7 linked regions of the Homo sapiens genome follow. The protein of the gene in region 2 interacts with the protein of the main gene of each other region in a biochemical or structural test. Each region holds a gene or a part of one and is shown on either strand. Other genes may lie near its edges. The genes, in order: PML, STAT3, GTF2I, FYN, RPRD1B, RPS6KA1 and MAPK9.

Region 1 (3,500 bases), on a different chromosome or scaffold from region 2:
CCAAACTGAGTTCCTTGAAGGCAGAATGTATCCTACACCTCTTATATCTCAGAGCCTATTACTGTGGGTGATGAGAAGTAGATGCTCAATAAATGGTGCAGTGAGAGCTGGAGGGCCTGAATAAATGGGGGTATTGGGGTGCTGATAAGCCAGGGTTTTGCATCATCCAATGACTGGCTGGAATGGAATATGAGGTCCTACTCCAGGGTCCAGCTGTAAGGGTGGTTGGCCGGTAGGTGGGGGCTTTTGGGACTTCTCCAGGCCTCACCTGCCTCTCTGGTCCCCCAGCGAGCCCCCGCTTCGGAGGAGGAGTTCCAGTTTCTGCGCTGCCAGCAATGCCAGGCGGAAGCCAAGTGCCCGAAGCTGCTGCCTTGTCTGCACACGCTGTGCTCAGGATGCCTGGAGGCGTCGGGCATGCAGTGCCCCATCTGCCAGGCGCCCTGGCCCCTAGGTGCAGACACACCCGCCCTGGATAACGTCTTTTTCGAGAGTCTGCAGCGGCGCCTGTCGGTGTACCGGCAGATTGTGGATGCGCAGGCTGTGTGCACCCGCTGCAAAGAGTCGGCCGACTTCTGGTGCTTTGAGTGCGAGCAGCTCCTCTGCGCCAAGTGCTTCGAGGCACACCAGTGGTTCCTCAAGCACGAGGCCCGGCCCCTAGCAGAGCTGCGCAACCAGTCGGTGCGTGAGTTCCTGGACGGCACCCGCAAGACCAACAACATCTTCTGCTCCAACCCCAACCACCGCACCCCTACGCTGACCAGGTGAGTAGGCCGGCACAGGGTGGGGTGGTGCATCCAAGTACCAGGTAGAGGGCGAGAGGAGCAAAGATCCAAAGAGTCACACAGCTGAGGACAAGGAGCTTCTGGGGCCTTGCAACTCTAAATGTGGTCTGCAGATATGCAGTGTCCGTGTTGATGACCACAATTTATGCTGCCAGTCCCCACGCAGGTGGATAGTAAGTTTCCAGTTTCCTCCTGTAATAAATAATGCTGCAGAATCATCTTTGCATCTTTATCCAGTAACTTCTTTAGGATAAATTTTTAGAAGTGCCACTGCTGGGTGTAGGGGGACGGGAATTCTACATTTGATACATGTTACCAAACTGCCCTTTAGAATTTAGTGGAATTTTCCGAGAGCACTGACACGGAATCTCAGTAAGGCTGGATTCTAGGATCAGAGACAAGTAGTTAGTTTCTGTCTGAAAAGTTGAAACCATTAACACCAGGCAGCGCTATCTGAGAATGTCTGTATGGGGAAAAAAAATCACATCCAGTTGTAATTATTTTTATTAAACAGATTTTAACTCAGTTTTTTAATAGGTAATACATTCGTACAGTTCACGAACAAAATTTGTAAAGAGGAGAGAGAGAGTGCAATCTTCTGTCCATGCCCAACTGCCTAATTCCCACCACTTCTCCCTCTTCCCATCCACAGGTAGCCATTGTTACTAGTTTTGAATGTTTCTTCTGAGAGTTTCTTTACGAATATATATGCAGGTAGGAGCAATCTTATCAGGTCCTATTTTCCCTCTTTTAGCCAAAAAGGTAGCATAACTATGTGAACTTTTCACCATTAGCAATAGATTGTTCATAGAAGGCGCTTCTTGGTTCTTAGAGATCCACTTGCAAAATGAAAGCATTTTTCGCTGGTTTTTGACAACTCAGAACTATATATGGCTAAACCACATATTTGCTGAACTACATATCTGCTAAACTGACTGTGATTTGTTTCCTGCTTTAGGATAAACTTCCCACACTATCAGAATAAGCTTTCCCCTCCGACTCCTCAACAGCTGGTATCACCACGTTTCTTAGCTTATTGTAAAGGTTGAGTGGCTTTCCACTTGTTTATTGGCCATTGTGTTTCTGCATTTGCGAGTGGCCTGTTTAGGTCCTTTGCCTGTTGTTGTTGTTGTTTCCGTTGAGGAATTAAGGGACTAATTAAAGAATTCAGGAACAAATTCCTCGAAAGAAAAAAATGTATGCATTTCTTTTGCTCTTACAATTTATGCAGTTTTAAAACTTACATATTTATTGGATTTTGATTGAAATTGCAATAAATTAGGAGAAATTGGCTTTATCTCTGGTTCTATCTTTTGGATTTAAAAAATTTTTTTTAATTTTTTTTTTTTTTTTTTGAGATGGAGTCTCGCTGTGTCACCCAGGCTGGAGTGCAGTGGCGCGATCTCGGCTCACTGCAACCTCCACCTCCCGGGTTCACGCCATTTTCCTGCCTCAGCCTCCCAAGTAGCTGCGATTACAGGTGCACATCATCATGCCTGGCTAATTTTTTGGCATTTTTAGTAGAGACAGGGTTTCACTATAATGGTCAGGCTGGTCTCCTGACCTCAGGTGATCCACCTGCCTCGGCCTCCCAAAGTTCTGGGATTACAGGCATGAGCCACCATGCCCAGCCTTATACTAATTTCTTAATGAATTTGTAAGCTTTCATGTTTTGAACGTGATAATGCAGCCATCCCACGGGATCCATGGGAGTCTGTTTCAAATTCATAGATGCTCAAGTCTCTGATATAAAATGGCATAGTATTTGTATATAACCTCTACACATCCTCCTGTATACTTTATTTTTTATTTTATTTTTATTTTTTGAGACGGGGTCTTGCTCTGTCGCCCAGGCTGGAGTGCAGTGCTGCACTCGTGGCTCACTGCAGCCTCAATCTCTTGGGTTCAAACAATCCTCCCACCTCAGCCACCAGATTATACAGGACTGCAGGTGTGCACCACCACACTCAGCTAATTTTTAAATTTTTTGTAGAGACAGGGTTTCACGACATTGCCCAGACTGGTCTTGAGAACTCTTGGGCTCAGGCAGCAACCCTCCCTAGGCCTCTCAAAGTGCTGGGATTACAGGTGTGAGCCACTGTACCCATCCCCTCCTGTATACTTTAAGTCATCTCTAGATTACTTATAATGCCTAATACAATGTAAATGCTATGTAAAGAGTTGTTTTACTATATTTTTGAATTTGTATATTTTTTTATTGTGGTACTTTTTTAATTGATTTTTTTTCGCCTGAATATTTTTGATCCAAGATTTGTTGAATCCACGGGTGCGTAACCTGCAGATACTGAGGGCCAACTGTACATATAAATTGTTTAGCGTAGTGCCTGGCACATATTAAATACTCAGTGAATGTTAAAATTCTATTATAATTTCTCTGCTCTAGAACAATTTGAAGAATATAAGAAATTTAGGCTTATAAAAGTTTTTTGAAAAACCATCTTGGAACTGGTGCCTTTTTTATAGTAGATTTTTGGGAACTTTTCCCATTTTTGCCATGGCATTAATCTGTTTTGGCTCTTGTGTCAGATTTTTGGAAGATTTTCCAGTTCATCCTGAGTTATCTTTCATTATTTAAAAATCTCCTATATGCCTGTAACTATACCCCCTTTTTTTATTTCTGATGTTGTATATTTGTGGTTTAGCAGTCTTTTCAAAGTACTGTACTTTTAGTCTTTCCTTAGATTGCTTACTGATTTT
Region 2 (3,500 bases):
CACCAAGTCGGCAAGGATGGTCTTGAACTCCTGACCTCAAGCAATCCACATGCCTTGGTCTCCCAAAGTGCTGGGATTACAGGCGTGAGCCATCGCTCCCGGCCTCCTAATTATGTTTCATTTTGGTTAATGTTTCAATAAATGTGCTTTCCCTAAACATACTGATGAAAAGAGGCCCAAATGCAAAACTGATTTGTCGAGAAAGTCAGTCTGAGATGAAATATTTATTATGTCTAAACCACAAGTAGAAAAAAATTCAAAGGCCGACTATTTCAATGCTAACTCAATGCAATATTGCACTTTGTTTGGTTTACGGGAGAGGTAATTTACACAGCTAACATTTGGGTTTTCAAGATTACATTGTGGGGAGAGAAGGGGAAAACAAGAAAAGTCTAATGCTTTTAGATTCTGTCAGAAAAAGTGTTTGCTAAAAAGCAAAACAAAATGAACATGAGAAAAAATGTGAAAAAACATGCATTTTAGGAAGCTTTCACCGAAGCAGGTGCTCAAGTTCAGACTCAAATCTTCCAACTCTTGTAATAAAAATGAGAGGTCAGAATACCACAAACTAATCAAATCAATCAAACAAAGCGGGAAACAGGTGGCTGACACCAGACTGGGCAGGGTTTTCCTAAATTGGGCTTACCTTCACTAATCCAAATCAGTTTTCAGAAATGGCTTCTACAAAAACTACCCAAACATCCCCCTAATAATTTGCACTCCTCCTCCACAATAGGGAAGCCAAGCCGTTTATTTCCCAGAAGGTTTACTTTCTCTTTCAAGCTCTGCTGGCTTCTTCCTGCCCCGCATACGGCCAGGAAAAAAGAAAAGCACTGCCTTTTCTTTCCTGCCTTCTCTAAAACTGGGGAGATGGGGTGAGAGAACCTGTTTCATGGACAAGCTGGGTGGTTCTTAACTGCAACACTGTTCTGAATACAGATTAGTTTGCAAAGGAAAGTTACAGGACAGGAAAATAAAGGTCTACCCCTCCAACTAACTCATACACATGTACATTTGCATGTACGCACACACACAGATGTGAGGGCACATTTAATTCAGCTGAGTAATGTGCAGCAATCAGCTCCCAGCTTCATACCTGGCCACCGGGATGCCTCCTCACTCCCACCTTCTTTACCTGACTCAAAATAAGGTTCCTCCTGTTGGCTTCTTCCTGAGACACAACCAACTCTAATCATTCCTCTTCCCCTCAAACCTTCAACACTACCTGCACTTTCTGGGTCGGGAGCAATTCCTTGGGTGGTAATCCATTTTTAATGTGTTAAATATTACTTAAAATAAGGGAGAGGTAATCATGGACTGTGGGCAATGCAGAGATTTATCAGAAGGGCATTTGTGTAAACAGGAATTTACAGTTTGCCTTACCTATTCCTTTTATATGACAGCCTCAATTTCCTCTAACAGAATGTAAGTCCCCCATCCCTATTCATTTAGTTTTTTTCCCATTAGGTTAGAATCTGCTAATTATTCTTTCTCTCCTTTGGGTCATTAGTGGCTGCCATGAATCATAATTTGCCTGACTTTGTAATATCTAACAGATATTACCATTTTAGTTTAGTTTTTGATATGACAGTTTTTTGTTTTTTGTTTTTGTGACGGAGTCTTGCTCTGTCTCCCAGGCTGGAGTGCAGCGGCGCGATCTCAGCTCACTGCAACCCCCACCTCCTGGGTTCAAAAGCAATTCTCCTGCCTCAGCCTCCCGGGTAGCTGGGACTACAGGCACCCGCCACCACAACAGGCTAAATTTTATATTTTTAGTAGAGACGGGGTCTCACTATGTTGGGCAGGCTGGTCTTGAACTCCTGACCCGCCTCGGCCTCCCAAAGTGCTGGAATTACAGGCGTGAGCCACCATGCCCGACCTCCTAATTATGTTTTATTCCACCTGCCCCTATGTATAAGCGTTACCACCCTAATTATGCTTTTTGTTTTTCGGTTTTTTTGAGACAGAGTCTCACTCTGTCACCCAGGCTGTAGTGCAGTGGCACGATCTCGGTTCACCGCAACCTCCGCCTCCCGGGTTCAAGCGATTATCCTGCCTCAGCCTCCCGAGTAGCTGGGATTACAGGTGCCCACCACCACAACTGGCTAATTTTTATATTTTTAGTAGAGACGGGGGGGGTCTCACTCTGTTGGGCAGGCTGGTCTTGAACTCCTGACCTCAGGTGATCCACCCGCCTTGGCCTCCCAAAGTGCTGGGATTACAGGCGTGAGCCACCGCACTCGGCCTGATATTATAGTTTTTAATAAGAGTAATTCAGCCTAGGCAACGTGACGAGATCCTGACTCAAAAAAATTAGAAAATTAGCTGAGGGTGGTAGCACACACCTGTAGCCCCAGCTACCCCGAAGGCTGAGGCAGGAGGATCACTTGAGCCTAGGAGGTCAAGGCTGTCATGAGCTGTGATCTCACCGCTGCACTCCAGCCTAGGTGACAGAGTGAGAACCTGTCTCAAAAAATAAATAGTAATAATAGTAATTATTAGCACTTGAATGTTACCTGTCTGCCCGGCACTATGCAAAGTACTTGATATGCATCATCTTGCTTCATCCTCTCAATTACTCTACAAGTGGACCTCGTTTCCACAATTGTGGACAGAGAAACTGAAAACCAGAGAAGTGAAAACAACAGGCCCAAGGTCTAAGAGAAGGCAGAACTGGGATTAAAGCCCAATAGGTCTGACCTGATAGTCCACTCTTTTAACTGCTATAGTAACTTTGGACCATGAAACCCTCAAACATACCAACCAAGTGTTTCAAAACTACAATAGCAATCACCTTAGGAATACTCAAAATATAAGTTCTTTGGCTGACGCAGTTAAAAATTCAAAGGTCAGGTAAAATTTCAGTGATGAGCAAGGTCATTTATTCTTATGGCTGGGGGTAGCAGGAAGGAAAGCCGGATCGTCGAAGCATTATTTTCTTGTAGGGGCAGATTTACCTTCCTTATTATTCTTTTGCTAGGCTGTTAAAAGGAATTTGGAAGGCCAGGCGTGCTGGCTCACGCCTGTAATCCCAGCACTTTGGGAGGCCGAGGCAGGCGGATCACAATGTGAGGAGATTGAGACCATCCTGGCTAACACGGTGAAACCCTGTCGCTACTAAAAATATAAAAAAAAAAACATTAGCTGGGCGTGGTGGCGGGCGCCTGTAGTCCCAGCTACTCGGGAGGCTGAGGCAGGAGAGTGGCGTGAACCCGGGAGGCGGAGCTTGCAATGAGCCAAGATAGCGCCACTGCACTCCAGCCTGGGCGACAGAGCGAGACTCCATCTCAAAAAAAAAAAAAAAAAGGAATTTGGAATAAATATGTCTCCAAGATAACCTGGTAAACAGAAAGGGCTGCAAAAAATCTGAATAAAAGCAAGTCAATTAACAGGATACATGTAAAACACACATTTTATATTCCTACAAGTCTTTTTTTTTATAATAGCATGTTATTACTTTTCTAAAAAGGACAAAATAACTTATTTTAATGACATTTAAA
Region 3 (3,500 bases), on a different chromosome or scaffold from region 2:
CTATCCCTTATAACTCAGTCCCAACAAACACACAGAGGCATGACCCCAATCAGTAAGGAAGGTTTACCCTTCCACATCCCGTCAATGAGTGGAGAGAGGCCTTCTGTTCCTAACCCCGCACCCAAACTAACCATTGTGTTATCCTTCAAAATCAAGCCAGAATTACCTTTCTAAAGGGCGGATCCACATTATTTTCAGAGGCATCTGCCTCGAGACCACTTCGTGACTGCCTCTGTGTTCGTAGGATCTCAGGCCTTCCTCCACTTGCCCACCCAAGTCGATCCATGCAACCCCACCACGCCCACGTGGCAGTCCTCACTCCACACACGGTGGGTGAGTTCTGTGGATACGCAGGCATATTTGCCACCTCCTCCCCCTACTCATATGATTTCCTTCACTTGAAACACCTTCCATCTCTTCTGGATGCACAAGTGACCGAGCTGGGTGTGCCATCCTTGCCTTCTCCCTTAAAAACGCTCAATAACACTTCATTGCATTTTTCTATTTTTTTTTTTTAATTATTTTGAGATGGAGTCTCGCTCTGTTGCCCAGGCTGGAGTGCAGTGGCACGATCTCGGCTCACTGCAACCTCCGCCTCTAGGGTTCAAGTGATTCTCCAACCTCAGCCTCCCGAGTAGCTGGGACTACAGGCTTGCACCACCGCTTCCAGCTAATTTTTGTATTTTTACTAGAGATGGGGCTTCATCATGTTGGCCAGGCTAGTCTTGAACTCCTGACCTCAAGTGATCCACCTGCCTTGGCCTCCCAAAGTGCTGCGATTACAGGCGTGAGCTGCCGCGCCCGGCCTTCAGTGCATTTTTCTTTGTATGAAGGCCCCAAGGACAGTGTTCTTGTTAGACCCAATTTTGCACATCTGATGCTTATACTAATATTTGTTCACTAAGTGAATCTAAATATTAATGCCTTCATTGTCAATAGAAATAAGTCATAAGGTAAACAAAAGGCCCTTCTTCATCAAATTAACCTCTTCTCAGGGAAGACACTGAAACTATTTCTACAGATTATCATCTTACCTTTTAATAACAAATTTAATTCGATTGCCCACTTGAATGATTTTTTCCAGCCTTGGGATTCCATACCATGAGGGACTTCGGAAAGGAATGTTTTCTGGCAGTCCTTCCACGTACAGATCATTCGGGTGTGCCTCAAATTTTTGGTACGGTACAGCCTTGGCTTCAGTGCTCCCCAAGGCTTCCGCTGGACAAAAATCAAAGCAATTCGGGAGACTACATTTGTATTGAAATCAGATTTTAGTACAATCCAAAGAAAGGCACAGGTCAATTTTGTTTTACTTGAAAAAAACTCTTTCTAGAAACATATTTATTAACTATTGAATAGACTTAATACAGCAAAGACAAGTAGAGATGACCGATCATCAACAGCCAGATTTGGGCAGATTTAAGTGTCCTGGTCCTAAGACAATCTTAATAGCTCTGAGATCTTTAAAAGATTAAAGTTTGTTTTTCAATATCCTTAGGAAGAAAAGAGAGAAAGAAAATCATCATGGACAATAGAGGACACAACCTAAATACTATCTGGAAGCAGCCTTTTGCTACTAACTGTTCAGGACCGTAATTACCCTCCTCCATCGGCTATGGCAAACTGGTAACACATTTCCGACTACACTTTCATCTGCGTGGCAACCAGATCAATGTTCTTTACCCCTTCAACCTCACGAGCATGCCATTTTAAAGGAAATAACTTTCCACAGATAATTCATAGAATGGGGGCCGGGCGCGGTGGCTCACGCCTATAATCCCAGCACTTTAGGAGGCTGAGGCGGGTGGATCACCTGAATTCAGGAGTTTGAGACCAGCCTGGCCAACATGGCGAAACCCCATCTCTACTAAAAATACAAAAGTTAGCCAGGCGTGGTGGCGGGCACCTGTAATCCCAGCTACTTGGGACGCTGAGGCAGGAGAATTGCTTGAACCCGGGAGGAGGAGGTTGCAGTGAGCTGAGATCGTACCACTGCACTCCAGCCTGGGCAACAGAGCAAGACTCCTTCTCAAGAAAAAAAAAAAAACCCAAAAAAAAAAAACAGGGAAAACTAAAGCTGAGTCCTATTCACTGTATTTACTTTCCTAAAATAAAACAACATTTAAAAAAATGTTACTCAGTAATACATTTTAGTTGAAGGGGTAATTAAAAAAAACAGACTTACCAAATTTTTTGCAGAAAAGCTGATCCACCATCTTTCTTAATTTAGTGATTCTGGCATACCATTCTTCCTTTACTGTCAAAATAACAGTAATACAAGTGTTCTCAATTTAATGGGTTTAATAACTTGATTATTAAACATTATTACTATAAAATAAGAGGTATAACTTTTCCTTTTCCTATGGCCAAAATTATTTCTAAGATTCGTGGCCAGGTGCAATGGCTCACACCTGTAATCCCAACACTTTGGGAAGCCGAGGCAGGCGGGTCACTTGAGGTCAGGAGTTTGAGACCAGCCTGGCCAACATGGTGAAACCCCATCTCTACTAAAAATACAAAAATTAGCCAGGCGTGATGGCGCACGCCTGTAGTCCCAGCTACTCATGAGGCTGAGGCAGGAGAATCGCTTGAACCCAGGAGGCAGCGGTTGCAGTGAGCTGAGATTGCGCCATTGCACTCCAGCCTGGGCAACAGAATGAGATTCCGTCTCAAAAAAAAAAAAAGACAATAATAAAATTATTCCTAAGATTCTAGAATGTATTTATTTCTAAAACAATGCTGACACTGTACAAAAAGAGGAAGAACGAAACATTCATTAGAGCTAGGAAAAAGCAAAACTCAGTGTATTCAGGAACAGCTAGCAGGTAACACTTGCTACAGGAAGATTAGGGCTATGATCTTGCTGCAGTCCTTCTATCTTAGTAAATATCAACAGGGTGATTCCATTCTGTTTTATCCTCACTCCACTCCACTCCAGAGCAAAAGCAAGCAAGAAAATCAATTATATTTCTATTTATTTTAAAACACATCTAACAGGCTGGGCGCGGTGGCTCATGCCTGTAATCCTAGCACTCTGGGAGGCCGAGGTGGGCAGATCACCTGAGGTCAGCAGTTTGAGATCAGCCTGGCCAACATAGTGAAACCCTGTCTCTACGAAAAATACAAAAATTAGCTGGGCATGGTGGCAGGCACCTGTAATCCCAGCTACAGGGAGGCTGAGGCAGGAGAACTGCTTGAACCCAGGAGGCGGGAGGTTGCAGTGAGCGGAGATCGCACCACTGCACTCCAGCCTGGGCAACAGAGCAAGATTCCCTCTCAAAAAACAAAACAAAACAAAACAAAATACATCTAACAATTAAGAGATGATATAAATGGCTCCATGCTCTAAAAGGAAACCTTCTTATGTCCTGCATATCATGGACATTCAATGAATGCTTGTTCCATTGACTCGTGTAGACTTCAATAATAAACTGTTCAATGCATTATGCCAGATAAATCTTGCATCAAAAGTAGAACAAATATTGTTCTTTTACTTCTGT
Region 4 (3,500 bases), on a different chromosome or scaffold from region 2:
CATTCTCATGCAAGCCATTTATCATGTTCCCCACCAATACTGCTGTTTCCTAACTAGGCTTAGACTTACACAACCCACAGCTCTTAGATCTATTATGTCTATTGTGTTAAATTAAACTTTTATAATGTACATCAGTTTCTGTCCTAACACCCAGATATCACCATTATTTTGTTCTTTCTGAAAACATATAATTATTAGATATGCAGTTTATACATTTTATCAAAGACTGGTTTTATGTGCAATTGTTAAAATGATTGCTTTCTTTCCTAGATTAGCAAGTATTATATGCCACTATATAATACATGTTCACATGTGCCTATAGATATAGGTGCACATGTATAGACACATGTCTATATCCTATTAAGCCTAGAGATATTTTTTTGTGTGACCCATTTCTCCATTTTCTATTGTTCTCCAGGACAAAGGCAAGACTCAAAAATAGTATATGATTTACCTCTACTATTGCTCTGTGCACAATCATTGAAATATGTATGTATAATTTTTGGCATGAAAAAGCAATCTTTCGAAAATGACAATAAGAAATGTCTGTTGATCCCTTGCACTAATGAACAATAGAAAATATTAACAGCACTTGCAGTACTAGTTGATTATGGCATTGGCTAACTCGGTTTATGTGGATTCTAATGAAACATTTGGGAGAAATGGAACAAAATATCTCCCTGAGCTTAAGTGATATACTCAAAATGCCTGCATGTTGTAAGGATTTTTCAAATGCTGAAATATATTTCATTACAGCCAAACATCAGCAGGATCCCCAGGGTTTGGATCATTTGAAAATACTGTGTTCGAAAGGGCACCTTAATAACATTGTAAAGCTGGAAGGAAAGAGGGGATATGAACAATAGACACTTTTTTTAATCTCGGGGAAAAAAAATCCATCTCACGTTAGACTTGTTTTTATATTGGCTTTCCCTCTTCCCTCTTTCTCTCTCACACAATAAAATGCCTTTGAAATGCTGACACATAAATAATTTCCTACCTAAACATCTCAGAGCCTGATTCCATCAAAAAGAAAGGAGTAAAAAGCAAGTTACAGCCCAGCAGCACATCTGCTTTCCCTGGGTCCGGGGGCTGCCAGGAGGGAGCGGGAGGTCTGTCCACCTCACAAGGCAGGCTCTGTCAGCTTTTGTCACTCCCTGATTTCTTATTCTTTGTTACCTTTTTTCGCCTGACTGATTTTTACTTGGCATTTAAGTTCCCCTTAGCACTGCCAGATTCTAAAAGGTTATATTCTTTTTAAAAAAGAAGAGAAAGAAAGAAGGAAAGAAGACAAAGAAAGAATAAAAACCTCCGAGTGTTAACTACTTTTTCCTTTCTTCTTTTTTTTATAAAGAATACATTCTTTCACATCTTGAATTTCTGTGAATTTTAGTTTCCATTCTTTCTCCTTTCAAACCAGACACCTAAATTATACGTCGAAGACTGTTAAAAAGTTGTTTTTTTTTTTTTAATGGAAAATATCCAAGAAGCAGCCCAGGAGTATCTGACATGGTGGAATGGAATCAGTTAGAAAGCGAAGAAATCACTAAAAAAAGTTACTTCTTTTTTTCCCCACCAGTTATAATCTTCAACCTTACTAGTTTATAACAGTTTAATGTCCTATAGAAGGATCCTCCACTAAAGTTATAATTTTAAGTATAGTCATATAGAGAGATCCCTAATCCCCTGGGTAATCTAGATACTAAAGGTGGGGAAGAACAGTCATATTGACATTCTTTAATCCAAAACCACTGTTTGAAATTAGTAAGGATATTTTCAGCATTCCCAAAAACATGTTATTAGCACGTTGAGCTGAAAACGTTTTTCTTCCTCAGTGAGTACAGAAACCAAAGCAGTCTGCGTGTATGTCTATGTATAGACTGTATCGTACCTGGGCTCATGGAGTAGTCTAAATTTAAAACGTCCTCTCTTCTACCTCCAATGAAAATGTTTCCGTGTGTGGCGTCTGATCTTCCACCGTGTGTGTGGTCGTCTGCTGGTGTAGCGCTGTTTAAGGAGCGCTGTGTGCTGCTAGTGTTCCACGATGTGTGTGGTCGTCTGCTGGTGTAGTAGCACTGTTTGAGGAGCACTGTGCGCCGCTAGTGTGGGTTTACACTTATGAGTGTTGTCATTACATGTGTTCTGCTCTTCTCTCCCTCTCCTGCCCCTGCCCTGCTCCATCAGAGAGAGCTGCAGGTCTCTGCTGCCGCCTAGTAGTTCCCTGTCACAAAGGGATGCCAAGGCTTACCGATCTGTCTGTCAAAACCAAAGATGTCTGGGAAATCCCTCGAGAATCCCTGCAGTTGATCAAGAGACTGGGAAATGGGCAGTTTGGGGAAGTATGGATGGGTATGCTGAGACTCAATTACTCTCTTATTAGCTTCCCCGTTTGGAAGATCCCAAACACCAAAGATGGAAGGTGAAAATAAAGACTGCGTGACCGGGAAGAAAGTTTGAATTACTAATAGTGGGGAATAATAATTTCAGTTTTGGTTTTAACATTCTGGAATTCCTAAAAAAAAAAAAAAAAAAAAAAAAAGATAGTAAGTGGGCAAAATTGGCAAATGGCTCAAGTTGTACTATTACATGACTCTCAATTCATAAACCAGCAAATGGTCCAAGGAATGTTCCAGCTGCCATAAAATATCTTGCTCTTCATTTCCAAAAGCAAATATTTGTTGAGTGTCATCCTAACGGGCAAGTCACCTTCCATCTTTCCTAGTGCATGCATAATTATGGATTATAAGGACTGTGTTTTCTTTATTAATTCCCTTTCCTGTAGAGAAAGCTGATGGTTTGTGTTTTAACTTAACTGTGATTGCATCGAGTTGTACCCCACAAACTTCTGGATTGGCTAAAGATGCTTGGGAAGTTGCACGTCGTTCGTTGTGTCTGGAGAAGAAGCTGGGTCAGGGGTGTTTCGCTGAAGTGTGGCTTGGTAAGGCAGAGGGCACATTTTGTTTTGGCTGCATCTCAAAGCCGATTAAAAGGATGGTTTTGAACAAAAATGCACACACAGCCGTTGGGACAAAGACACTTAACCTGGATAACTAGACGGGCACAGGCCATCCAGATTTTCAGAATATGCTGATACCTTGCTGTGCTCATCTGTCCTACTTCATGTGGTTAATTAAGGCACCCGCAGAACAGGAAACCAGTACACTATGAATCTGGTGTTTCCTCTTCCTAAGAAATGGGAAGGTAAGATACTGTATATGGGCAGCCATAAGAAAGACCATGGACGTTTTGCTCAATGGGCCTGGGTTTGAATCCTTACTAGCTAATTAACCACGAACAAGGGGCATATTTAACTCCTTTAAGCCTCAGTTTTTTCATCTGTAAAATTGGAATGATACCTTTTTGTTGTTGTTGAGACGGAGTCTTGCTCTATCACTAGGCTGGAGTGCAATGGCGCGATATTGGCTCACTGCAACCTCCACCTCCCAGGTTCGAGTGATTCTCCTGCCTCAGCCTCCCGAGTAGCTGGGATTACAGGTGCC
Region 5 (3,500 bases), on a different chromosome or scaffold from region 2:
ATTAATTCTTTTTTTGTTAAACTTTTTAAAGTCAGAAGTGAGGGTTCGGGAAAAAAAAGGAAAAACATTTCTACTGCTAATTTTATAAAGCTTAAAAATATGACCCAATTACTTGGTATTTGTGATAAAACACTTTTACTCCACCTTCAAAATATATCCGGAAATGAGTTATTTCTCATCTTTTCCTCTGCTATCAATCTGGCCCAAGGCACTATCATCTCTCGCCTGCATTACTACAGTAGCCTCATTACTGGTCTCCTCGCTTCCACCCTTGTCCTCCTACAACCTGTTCTCGAGTTTTCAAAATACAATTTTAGCTGCTGTACTAAGGCAGACCACGTCACTCCTTTGTTCAAAATTGCCAACATTTCTTCCCAGTATCCCTCAGAATAAAAGTCCTTATAAAGACTCCAAGGCCTTTCCCAACCCAGCTGTTATTTCCCTGGCCTCATCTCCTACCCACTCTTCCCCACCCCCGTCCTCCAACCTCCTGCCTCAACAACAGCTACCCTAGCACTGCCTCAGAGCCTTAGCACTTCAAAAGTTTGCTTTGCCTGGAACCACATTCCCCATGTGGCCACACAGCTCAATTCCTCTCCTCCTTCAGGGGTATGTTTAGTTACACCACCTTCAGTGTGTCATTCCCTAATCTCCACGTTGAAAATAACACTCCCTGCCCCTACTCAATTTTTCTCCATACAACTTTTCTGGTATGCTGTATATTCAATAGTTTACTTTTTGTTTACACGCTTTCCATTTGAATGTAATTTCCACAGGGGTGCAGATTTGTCATTTTCTCCCATTGCTATATGCCCTTGAACAAGCACAATGAATATCTGTCAAATTGTAATCTTTTCCAGAAAAATGTATATGGGTTTCGGTAAGTAATACAGTTACTTAACTTTCAACAATCATCTTACTGTATCAAGGTCATGGCAGAAATCAACTAAGCACTCCTCAGCTCGACCAATGAAGGTTTACAAAGAATAAGAAGGCCTGGGTCCTGACCTCTAGGGCTCGACTCAGCAATCCCTCAGACCTGTTTTTAGTCTCCTTTCCCTACCCTACCTGGAACTTTGCATTCCAGCAACACCCACCCGTATGTATTTGCTACTCAGAATTTGTTCTCTCATGTGCATGTGCCTTTGTTCATGCTATCTCTTCTCCTTCAAATGGAATAGCCAAAATTGAACAAGGCAAAGGGAAAGGAGTAATTCAAGTAGCTGAAGTATATGGGGGAATGTGCGGAAACTGCAGAAGAATCTGGAAGGAGGGTGGAATTCAATTACAGCGAGCCCTGAATGCCATATTAAAGCACGTGGCCTGCAGGCAATGGGAGGTCCCTAATGTGAGCAAATGTATAGCTTAGAAAAATAAAGTCATTATAATTAGTAAAACCAAATTGCAACTAATCAGAACTTAGTTAATGAACTAGCTGGTACTTTTAGCATAAAATCTGTTTGCTGCAGATTCTCTGTTCGCTTAAAAGAAAGAGAAACCAGTCTCGAGAATAAATTCTTATCAAGGACTTAGTTTAAAAGTAGGTGGGTATCACAACACACACCCACCACCCACCATTCCTGGAGATACTTGGGACTCCATTCAGGCTAAGACTGGTTTTGTGTACAGTTTCAGGCACAGTGGAAAATGATGCTCAAACCTGTTATAACCACAAAACATTTTCAAAAGGCTTTTACTACTAAAGGCCAAAAGGGGGGTTCTAGTTTAATTAGTGAATATAACTAACCAGGACAGATATTTCCTTGAACATTGTGGTAAATCAAAGTTTTGCTAGATAAGTTTCAAAGTTATACATAAAATATTCAAGAAATCTTTCTACTGATTAGGTTTTGAAGGAAGTAGCTCCAGCGAAATGGAAGTCACTTTGGCATCTGGAATTAGATACAACCAAAGTAATAAAGCCGTTTTATAACAGAAAGAGAAATATTTTCAGGTTGTACTAACTCCAATCTAAACTGAGAAATCTTTAAGTGGAAAAAAAGACTGAACAATCTTTGCCAACAATCTATGAATAAAGTGGAAGATGGCAAATAATTACATACACAACTTAATATTACGTTGAACACTTCATATTTTAATTCTGATTAATAACAAATTCAATCACTTTATTTTTCAATACAGATAGCAAAACTGACCTTTAAGAGTGAAAAATGTATATGATACACACAAACAGAATTGGCTGCTTGACGTGTCAGCTGGACACCTGAGTCCCTGCAAAGCCAGCCTTGGGGGCCTTTTCTTCCTCTACAGTTCTATGGCACTTTTTCAGTACAACCACAGTAATTTGTACAACTCTGTCTTATCTCATGCACAGCAGGCCTATGGTAGGCCTACTAAGGGCAGGAATTCTAAGTATTCCCTACACTTCCAACAGTACCTCATGTAAAGCTGGTTCAGAAAGGAGTTAACACAGAAGGCCAGACTGCTACCCTTAGGGAAGTGGTCTGGGAACTTGGGATTTCCGAGTGTCCCTACCATTTCCTAACTGGTAAGGGTGGTTTACTGGGCCTAAATTGTTTGTGCAAGCAATACGGTTCTTAATGAACACCTGAGCCTGGCGCGGTGGCTGACGCCTGTAATCCCAGCACTTTGAGAGGCCAAGGCGGGCAGATCACAAGGTCAGGAGATCAAGACCATCCTGGCTAACATGGTGAAACTCCGTCTCTACTAAAAAATACAAAAAATTAGCCGGGCATCATGGCGGGCGCCTGTAGTCCCAGCTACTTGGGAGGCTGAGGCAGGAGAATGGCATGAACCCGAGAGGCGGAGCTTGCAGTGAGCCAAGACCAAGCCACTGCACTCCAGCCTGGGCGACAGAGTGAGACTCCGTCTCAAAAAAAAAAAAAAAAAAATGAACACCTGATTTATTTCTGGGAGCTTAGAATTTTGGCAGAGGGTGTCTACATGACCAATCCAATAAAAACTCTGGGCACAGAGTCTTTAATGAGCTTTCCTGGTAGGTTACACATCATACACATCACAACTCAGTGCTAGAGGAATTAAGCGTGTTTGTGGAATAACACTGAGAGAGGACTCGGAAGCTTATACCCAGAGCGCTCCAGTCTGCTGCGGGTACTGCATGCACATCACCCTCTGCTGCTGCTGCTGCTTTGGATCCTTTAGCTGTAATGAATCACTGCCATGACTATGACTACATGATGAGCCCTGTGAGTCATTCTAGGGAATCACCAAACCTGGGAGTGGTCTTGGGGCCCACAACAATAAGTAAATATCATGTGGGTAACTCTCAAATTTATGTCTCCAGAAATCAAGTCTCTACTGAGCTTCAGACTATTTTATCCACCTGCCTATTTGGCATCACTCCTTGGAATATTCACTAGCCACCTCACACTCGGCCTGGCCAAAACAAAACTCGTGATTTCCTCCACCAAATCTTTTCCCCAATCTTCACTTCAGTAAAGGGCACCATCAGTCATTCCTTACATCAAAAACCTAGAAATCGTCTTTGATTTCTCTTT
Region 6 (3,500 bases), on a different chromosome or scaffold from region 2:
CCGTCACTAAAAACCAGGTTCTTCCCATGGAGTTGCTGTAGGAGACCAAAAATTGTGGCTGACCCCTGGCTCTAGAGTGCTAGGGGTCATCCCCCAGGACCTAAGGTCTTGGCTCAGTAGAGACAGCACCAGGGAAGGGCCAGGAGACTTGGGGTAGAGTGTTGGCCATGTGACCGCAGGTGACAGCCTGCCCCTCTCTGGGCCTCAGTTTTCTACTCTATATAATGGGCATACTCACTGGCTCCCAGCCTGCCTGGACTGCAGCCTGTGGTCAGAGGGCAGTGTAGGGAGTGGGAAACAGGGTCACAACACACATGGAGAGGACTTTAGTTCTGAAAAGTCTGGGCAGGCCTGGGAGGGACGCAGGAGCCCTGAGCTGAGTTCCAGCTGTGCCACTAAGTACGGCTTTGAGTGGCCTGCCTCCCTTTCTGGGGTGTCACAGCTCAACTCATGGGGTGTCTCAAGGTTCTGGGACATTAGCCGTAGCAATGCTGAATGGTGCTTAGTGTGTGCTGTGTGCCAGGCACTATTCTAAGCACTTTCATCAGGTGACTGCATGCCCCACGGCCAGCCCTGGCTTGCGCATGCGGTCCTTGCATCCAGTCTGATTTAATATTTGTCCTGGACTAAGATGTCCCAGTTTGGAAAATAAATTACATAGTCACCTTAACTTTATTTTTTATTTTATTTATTTATTTTTTGAGACAGAGTCTTACGCTGTTGCCCAGGCTGGAGTGCAGTGGTACGTTCTCAGCTCACTGCAACCTCTGCCTCCCAAGTAGCTGGGACTATAGGCACGCGCCAACACGCCCAGCTGATTTTTGTATTTTTAGAGACGGGGTTTCGCCATGTTGGCCAGATGGGTCTGTTTAAATTCCTGGCCTCAAGCAATCCACCCTTCTTGGCCTCCCAAAGTGCTGGGATTACAGGCATGAGCCACCGTGCCCAGCCCACATGAACTTTACATGTATTAACTCTAATAATCCTCATAACAGCTCTATGGAGGAAGCTTCTATCATTTCCCCCATTTACAGATGAGGAAACTGAGGCACGAGGAAGGGAGTATCTCATCCAAAGTCCATTATCTGGTCAGGTGCTCATGTCTGTAATCTCAGCACCTTGGGAGGCTGAGGTGGGCGGATCACTTGAGGTCAGGAGTTTGACACCAGCCTAGCCAACATGGTAAAACCCCGTCTCTACTAAAAATACAAAAAAAAAAAAAAAAAATTAGCTGGGTGTGGTGGTGTATATCTGTAGTCCCAGCTATTCGGGAGACTGAGGCAGGAGAATTTTTTGAACCTGGGAGGTGGAGGCTGTAGTGAGCTGAGATTGTGCCACTGCACTCCAGCCTGGGCAACAGAGCAAGACTACGTCTCAAAAACAAACAAACAAAAAACCCCAAAGTCCATTATCTTGTGAATCTGGAACCCATGCAATGAGCTCCACAGTCTACATTCTTGCCTCTCAACCTGAAACTTTCATTAGCAGTAGAAGTGTACAAATGGGGAACAAGTGTGATGAGATCCAAGTCCTTCGCTACACTTATGCCGGAGACACGACAGTCACTCGGCACCACCACCCTGGGCACCTCCTGACATGTACCCAGACCCTGGCTCTGTGCTGGGAAATGTACACCCATATCATCATCCAATTATCAGGGCCACTGTGTGAGGTGGGCCTTACTGTCCCTGTTTTATGTTGGAGGCCCTACTGGTCCCACAGTGGCATGAGGGTATGAACCTGGTTCTGTCCAACTCAGAGCCTGTGTACTCAGCCATTCTTTAGAAAAGGATAATGGAGCAGCAGCCCCCTGCCCCCCTCACCTGTACCACCGAGTGCAGGGGTGCCTGCGGGGCACGAGGCTTGCCGTCGTCTTCCATCAGGCCGGTGGCCACGAAGCTGAAGCCCCGGAACAGCTGATGGGCCCCAGCGCTGGGGGGGATGCCTGGGGAATCTGTACGGATGGAAGGAGAATGTGAGGGTACCTGAGGAGGTCCCCTCGACCCTGAGGCAGCCCAGCAAAGGGGGAGCACAGGGCCTCCAGACCTGCCTCAGGGGCTGGCCGTGGCGGGAGCCTGCAGAGGGCCTGTCCATCACAGGCCTTGGCCCAACTGCTCATATGTGTTTATTAGACCAGCCCAGTCCTGTCGCATGAGGAACAAAAAAGACTCTCACATCCACCTCCATCCCAGGCCAAGACAGTTCATCCCTTCCTGGATGCTTCCTCCCCAGCTTCCCCATCTTACGTCAGCCCCTTCAGGTCCATCTCTGCACAGCAGCCAGAGGGAAGGTTCCAACCACAAATCTGCCACCCTGCCCACACCTTTCAAAGGTTCCCGTCTGCCTTCAGGAGTAAGTCCAGCTCCTGAGTCTGGCAATTGAGGGCCCTGTGATCCTCACCTCCTCTCTCTCCATACCACAGCTGAGCCATGTTGGACTTCTCAGATCCTTAGAGGGGTCTCTGAGCCCTTGCACACACTGTTCCCTTTAACTAGATAATCCACTCCTTGCCTATCCTTCAAGACTCAACTCGCACGCTCCCTCCTCTGAGAAGCCTTGCCTGATGCTGCTCCTCCGGCCCCTGACTCCTACGAAGCTGCACTTGTCACGTTGCCCAGCGGACTGCTTGGAGAAGTGCTGTCTCTGTCATCAGAGGCGTGCAAGTGCAGTGAGAAAAGCACCCCCTTGTGGATCACCTGAGGTCAGGAGTTCGAGACCAGCCTGGCCAACATGGTGAAACCCCGTCTCTACTAAAAATACAAAAATTAGCCAGGCGTGCTGACACATGCCTGTAATCCCAGCTACTCGGGAGGCTGAGGCAGGAGAATCTCTTGAACCCAGGAGGTGGAGGTTGCAGTAAGCTGAGATCACGCCATTGCATTCCAGCCTGGGCAACAGAGCGAGACTCCATCTTGAAAAGAGGAGAGGAGAGGGAAGGGAAGGAGAGGGAAGGGGAGGGGAGGGGAGGGGAGGGGAGGGGAGGAGAGGGGAGGGGAGGAGAGGAGAGAAGAAAAGCACACCCTCTCCTAAAACATGCCCTTATAGGAGGTTTCCCAGAACATTCCACCCCACACCCACTGTCAATATCTGGCCAAAAAGTTAGGATTCACCAGGTTCCTTCCCAGAAGCTCCCTCACTGGCTTCTTGTAGCAACCCCAGGGAATGAGTGGGTTTGTGGCTGTGCCCTTGTTCCAGATAAGTACACGGAGGCCGGGCAGTCAGGGCAGCCAAAGCTGATTCCCATGCCTGTCCCTGACCTATGGGCACTGTCACCTCTGCTCAGCCACCACACAGTGTGGCTGGGTCAGATTCTTTCTCCCTGACGTGATGGTAAGCCTGATGTGTTTGGTCTTCCCAGTGGGCTGGAAGGTGCCCCGGGCAGGGGTCCTGGCTTTTCTACTGTGGCCTTCACCACCCACACATCCCCACTCCCACTCTCTCACCAGACACAAAGAGACCCACAGAGCCCCATAGTGAGAGAGTCGGGCGGAGTGAGACAG
Region 7 (3,500 bases), on a different chromosome or scaffold from region 2:
GGCAGCGAGACTGCAGGCCATTTCTCGGCTCTGTCCTTTTGCAGTTTCCCAATCCTAACTATGAGTATAGACAAGAAGTCAGTCAGCTGGACTTTCTGAACTTTTCCTTGAGTCTTTCTTTGGGCCAAGAGTCCCATATTCCTATGTCTTTCCTTGCAAGATTCTTCTTTTTTTCTCAGTAGCTAAACATATATGTGGCCATGTATAATCATGTTAGCTACTTAAAAAATACCTGCTGCTTTCAAGCAGACATCAAAAGGACACAGCTATATTTATCTGAAAATGCAGTATCACAAAAGCTTAAGCCTGACTAGGATTCCAGTGTCACCAGACACTTGAATTGTAACAATTTATAACATAAACACTAAATCTACAGGAAAAAAAGCATCAACTTTCAAAGAAATCTTTTGCAATAAATAAAGACTATATACCAGAAAAAGGAAAAAAATTAGTGGCCTTGTATATTTTATGGTTTTATAACTCCAGAAAACTGACATTTTAATCTTTTAAAGCAAATGAAACTATCCTACTTCCTACTATCCATATTTTAGTCTGGTTTGAATAAAAACACAACATGCACTCTCTGAGATCGACGTCTGCAGTCATACGTGTGTGCTCAGTTAACAAGCACCTAAGTTCTTGCTGAAGTTATATAATCTCTAGATGCTTGACACATACGTCATGTTGAACATAAAATTCAAGAATAAAAAGTAAGCTGTGCTCTCTGCACATCCGCACACATGTGTGTGCATGCTTCCCAGTGGGAGTGGGAGAGAGACAATGATATAACGTGAGCGTTTCATTTAGTAAACAGGAAGAATCCTTCAGACGTAAGTGAACACGACTCATATCAGAGTCTCATGATCATACAACTACCTGGTCATTAGAGGCTTCCACCACTATGAAGATCAGTAGATCAAGCAGAAAAATGGGAAAATGATATCAACAATTTTCTCAAAAAGAATACCATACTCCATTTTACTTAGATTGGCATTTTGGGTGGGACCAGTACAAAGGGTTATCAACATTGAAAAGGCTTTAAATTCAATTTCTTCATCTGTAAATGGAGGTGACAGCAGTTATTGCAAAGATGAAAGAGAAATGCTTATAACAAAGTTCAGTGCCTGGCACATCAGTAAAATGTCATCCACCACCACCACCACTATGACAAGCCAAAAAGGCTGGCTATTCATACAGCGGTTTTTAAATCTGATGCTAGCCAGGCTGGCATTTCACATGTTGCTGCCATTTATAAAAGTTGAATCGGGAAAGACGCCAGGTGCGGTGGCTCACGCCTGTAACCCCACCACTTTGGGAGGCTGAGGCGGGTGGATCACGAGGTCAGGAGATCGAGACCAGCTTGGCCAATATGCTGAAACCCCGTCTCTACTAAAAATACAAAAATTAGCCAGGCATGGTGGTGCGTGCCTGTAATCCCACCACTTTGGGAGGCTGAGGCGGGCAGATCACAAGGTCAGGAGATCGAGACCAGCTTGGCCAATATGGTGAAACCCCGTCTCTACTAAAAATACAAAAATTAGCAGGGCATGGTGGCGCGTGCCTGTAGTCCCAGCTACTCGGGAGGCTGAGGCAGGAGAATTGCTTGAACCCAGGAGGCGGAGGTTGCAGTGAGCAGAGATCGCGCCGCTGCTCTCCAGCCTGGGCGACAGAACGAAACTCTGTCTCAAAAAAAAAAAGTTGAATAGGGAAAGAAAAATATCATACAATCAATTAAAGCAATCACTAACCTGAAGGCTGATCTTTTACAACACCATTCTTGCTTCTTTCTTCCCAATCCATGACTTCTTTGTAAATTAGCTCTTTAATAAAAATACAAGTTAAAATGCTTAATCAGTTTCTAAACAGTTTCACTGTATCTCTAAACTCTGCTTCCAAATCAACTGGAACAAAGGCATTGCGATTTGTTATTTTTAATTGTAAGACAGAGTCAATTCAGTAATATAGTCTACCTGGACCAAAATATTCATATTTTGATACATTATATCTTTTCTTTTCTTCTTCTTCTTTTTTTTTTTTTTTTTTTTGAGACAGTCTCATGCTGTCATCCAGGCTGGAGTACAGTGGCATGGTCTTGACTCACTGAAACCTCCACCTCCTGGATTCAAGTGATTCTCATGCCTCAGCCATCCAAATTGCTGGGATTACAGGTGTTCACCACCATGCCTGGCTAACTTTTGTAGTTTTTGTAGAGACAGGGTTTCGCTATGTTGGCTAGGCTTGTCTTGAATTCCTGGCCTCAAGCCATCTGCCCCACTTGGCCTCCCAAAGTCCTGGGATTACAGGTGTGAGCCACTGCGCCTGGACTACATTACATCTTTTTCAATGCAACTAGTAAGGCAGCAAAACATGTAGGGTGGTTCTGGATCCATAAGGGGGCTTTATGAAGTGGAGTGGCTCCCACAGAACACTGTAGGGGATTGGATATTCTCACACCCATTTGAATATGTTTCTCTATGTGGTTACTTGGGGTTCTCCAAAGGTAACCAGCACCCACATGTGGGCTAGGAGCCCCCCACACTGGCCAGAAATGAATCCACAGGCCTAAGTCTTTTCTTAATTTCAACTTCGGTTTTCCTCAACTTTCATCTGTAAGAAAAACTAATTACCTACGAAGTAAGTGATGAGGGATTCCTAAAATGTCAGTATTCATAAACCAACATTAGCACGTTGCAAGCATTCGCTGAGGCCAGTGAGCATTGACTGAGGCCAGTGAGCACGCTGTGTGCATGCACTGCTGAGCACGGGCACACACAGGTAACCGGCACTCCCACACCCCAGGATGGCCCTGGGGCATGACCCTCATCAGTGTTGACTGACTCTGACTGTGGTTCTCAGTTACTACTGATCCTGCTTCTTAATGAAAAATTGTTAGTTCAACCTCTTCATTACAGGTATAGTTTGTTGTGGGTTGTTTGGTTAATCTTATAGTGGTAATAATACCTATTTGCATATTTTCAATCTGCAATTTCCCCCAAACTAGATTTTAAAACATATGTACAACTACATGGCTTAAAAACATATCAATCAATATAAGTATGATACAATTACTAAGCTCAGTTTATAAATCAATATGTGAAAAGCCATGAAAAAAATATTATTTTTCCCTCTTGAAGCAAATGATAAGAAATTCATAAATGTTCCTCTCTAACTCTGTTCTCTTCAAGTTCATTTTCTACTGGAAACTGGGGAGAAAGAGGCTAAGTGGGTCGCAGGGTTTCTTGCCCCTTCCTGAAGGGAAATGTCACAAAATGAAAAGCCTCTGCTCTACAGGATTGGAAGAAATGTCAAAAGGAAGGATCAAAATAAGCTCCATCTTTACCTTTCCATTCTTCAATTGCATGTTCTCTTTCTTCCAACTGGGCATCATAAATTTGAGGTGGTGGCTAAAAATTAAATCATATGTAAAGTCAACAGTAATGCCTCAAAAAAAAATGAGGCACTAAAAAAGGTAAAATTGCTTGGAAGACTTCTAGTCTATT

Evidence for each region.
Region 1: the proteins of STAT3 (region 2) and PML form a complex in vitro, tested with the Homo sapiens proteins (one study listed by BioGRID).
Region 3: the proteins of STAT3 (region 2) and GTF2I form a complex in vitro, tested with the Homo sapiens proteins (one study listed by BioGRID).
Region 4: the proteins of STAT3 (region 2) and FYN form a complex in vitro, tested with the Homo sapiens proteins (one study listed by BioGRID).
Region 5: the proteins of STAT3 (region 2) and RPRD1B form a complex in vitro, tested with the Homo sapiens proteins (one study listed by BioGRID).
Region 6: of the proteins of STAT3 (region 2) and RPS6KA1, one has a biochemical effect on the other in vitro, tested with the Homo sapiens proteins (one study listed by BioGRID).
Region 7: of the proteins of STAT3 (region 2) and MAPK9, one has a biochemical effect on the other in vitro, tested with the Homo sapiens proteins (one study listed by IntAct).

Annotation. Positions count from the first base shown.
Region 1 is NC_000015.10:73,997,716-74,001,215, forward strand, and holds part of PML (protein PML), read left to right. Parts: intron 1-288; coding exon 289-761; intron 762-3,500.
Region 2 is NC_000017.11:42,378,443-42,381,942, forward strand, and holds part of STAT3 (signal transducer and activator of transcription 3), read right to left. Parts: intron 1-3,500. UniProt on the Homo sapiens protein: Signal transducer and transcription activator that mediates cellular responses to interleukins, KITLG/SCF, LEP and other growth factors. Once activated, recruits coactivators, such as NCOA1 or MED1, to the promoter region of the target gene.
Region 3 is NC_000007.14:74,734,218-74,737,717, reverse strand, and holds part of GTF2I (general transcription factor II-I), read right to left. Parts: intron 2,258-3,500; coding exon 2,186-2,257; intron 1,219-2,185; coding exon 1,035-1,218; intron 1-1,034. UniProt on the Homo sapiens protein: Interacts with the basal transcription machinery by coordinating the formation of a multiprotein complex at the C-FOS promoter, and linking specific signal responsive activator complexes.
Region 4 is NC_000006.12:111,698,953-111,702,452, reverse strand, and holds part of FYN (tyrosine-protein kinase Fyn), read left to right. Parts: intron 1-2,184; coding exon 2,185-2,349; intron 2,350-2,782; coding exon of another isoform or gene 2,783-2,938; intron 2,939-3,500. UniProt on the Homo sapiens protein: Non-receptor tyrosine-protein kinase that plays a role in many biological processes including regulation of cell growth and survival, cell adhesion, integrin-mediated signaling, cytoskeletal remodeling, cell motility, immune response and axon guidance.
Region 5 is NC_000020.11:38,043,746-38,047,245, reverse strand, and holds part of RPRD1B (regulation of nuclear pre-mRNA domain-containing protein 1B), read right to left. Parts: intron 1-3,500. UniProt on the Homo sapiens protein: Interacts with phosphorylated C-terminal heptapeptide repeat domain (CTD) of the largest RNA polymerase II subunit POLR2A, and participates in dephosphorylation of the CTD by RPAP2. Transcriptional regulator which enhances expression of CCND1.
Region 6 is NC_000001.11:26,557,261-26,560,760, reverse strand, and holds part of RPS6KA1 (ribosomal protein S6 kinase alpha-1), read right to left. Parts: intron 1,955-3,500; coding exon 1,824-1,954; intron 36-1,823; coding exon 1-35. UniProt on the Homo sapiens protein: Serine/threonine-protein kinase that acts downstream of ERK (MAPK1/ERK2 and MAPK3/ERK1) signaling and mediates mitogenic and stress-induced activation of the transcription factors CREB1, ETV1/ER81 and NR4A1/NUR77, regulates translation through RPS6 and EIF4B phosphorylation, and mediates cellular proliferation, survival, and differentiation by modulating mTOR signaling and repressing pro-apoptotic function of BAD and DAPK1.
Region 7 is NC_000005.10:180,236,584-180,240,083, forward strand, and holds part of MAPK9 (mitogen-activated protein kinase 9), read right to left. Parts: intron 3,405-3,500; coding exon 3,341-3,404; intron 1,821-3,340; coding exon 1,749-1,820; intron 1-1,748. UniProt on the Homo sapiens protein: Serine/threonine-protein kinase involved in various processes such as cell proliferation, differentiation, migration, transformation and programmed cell death.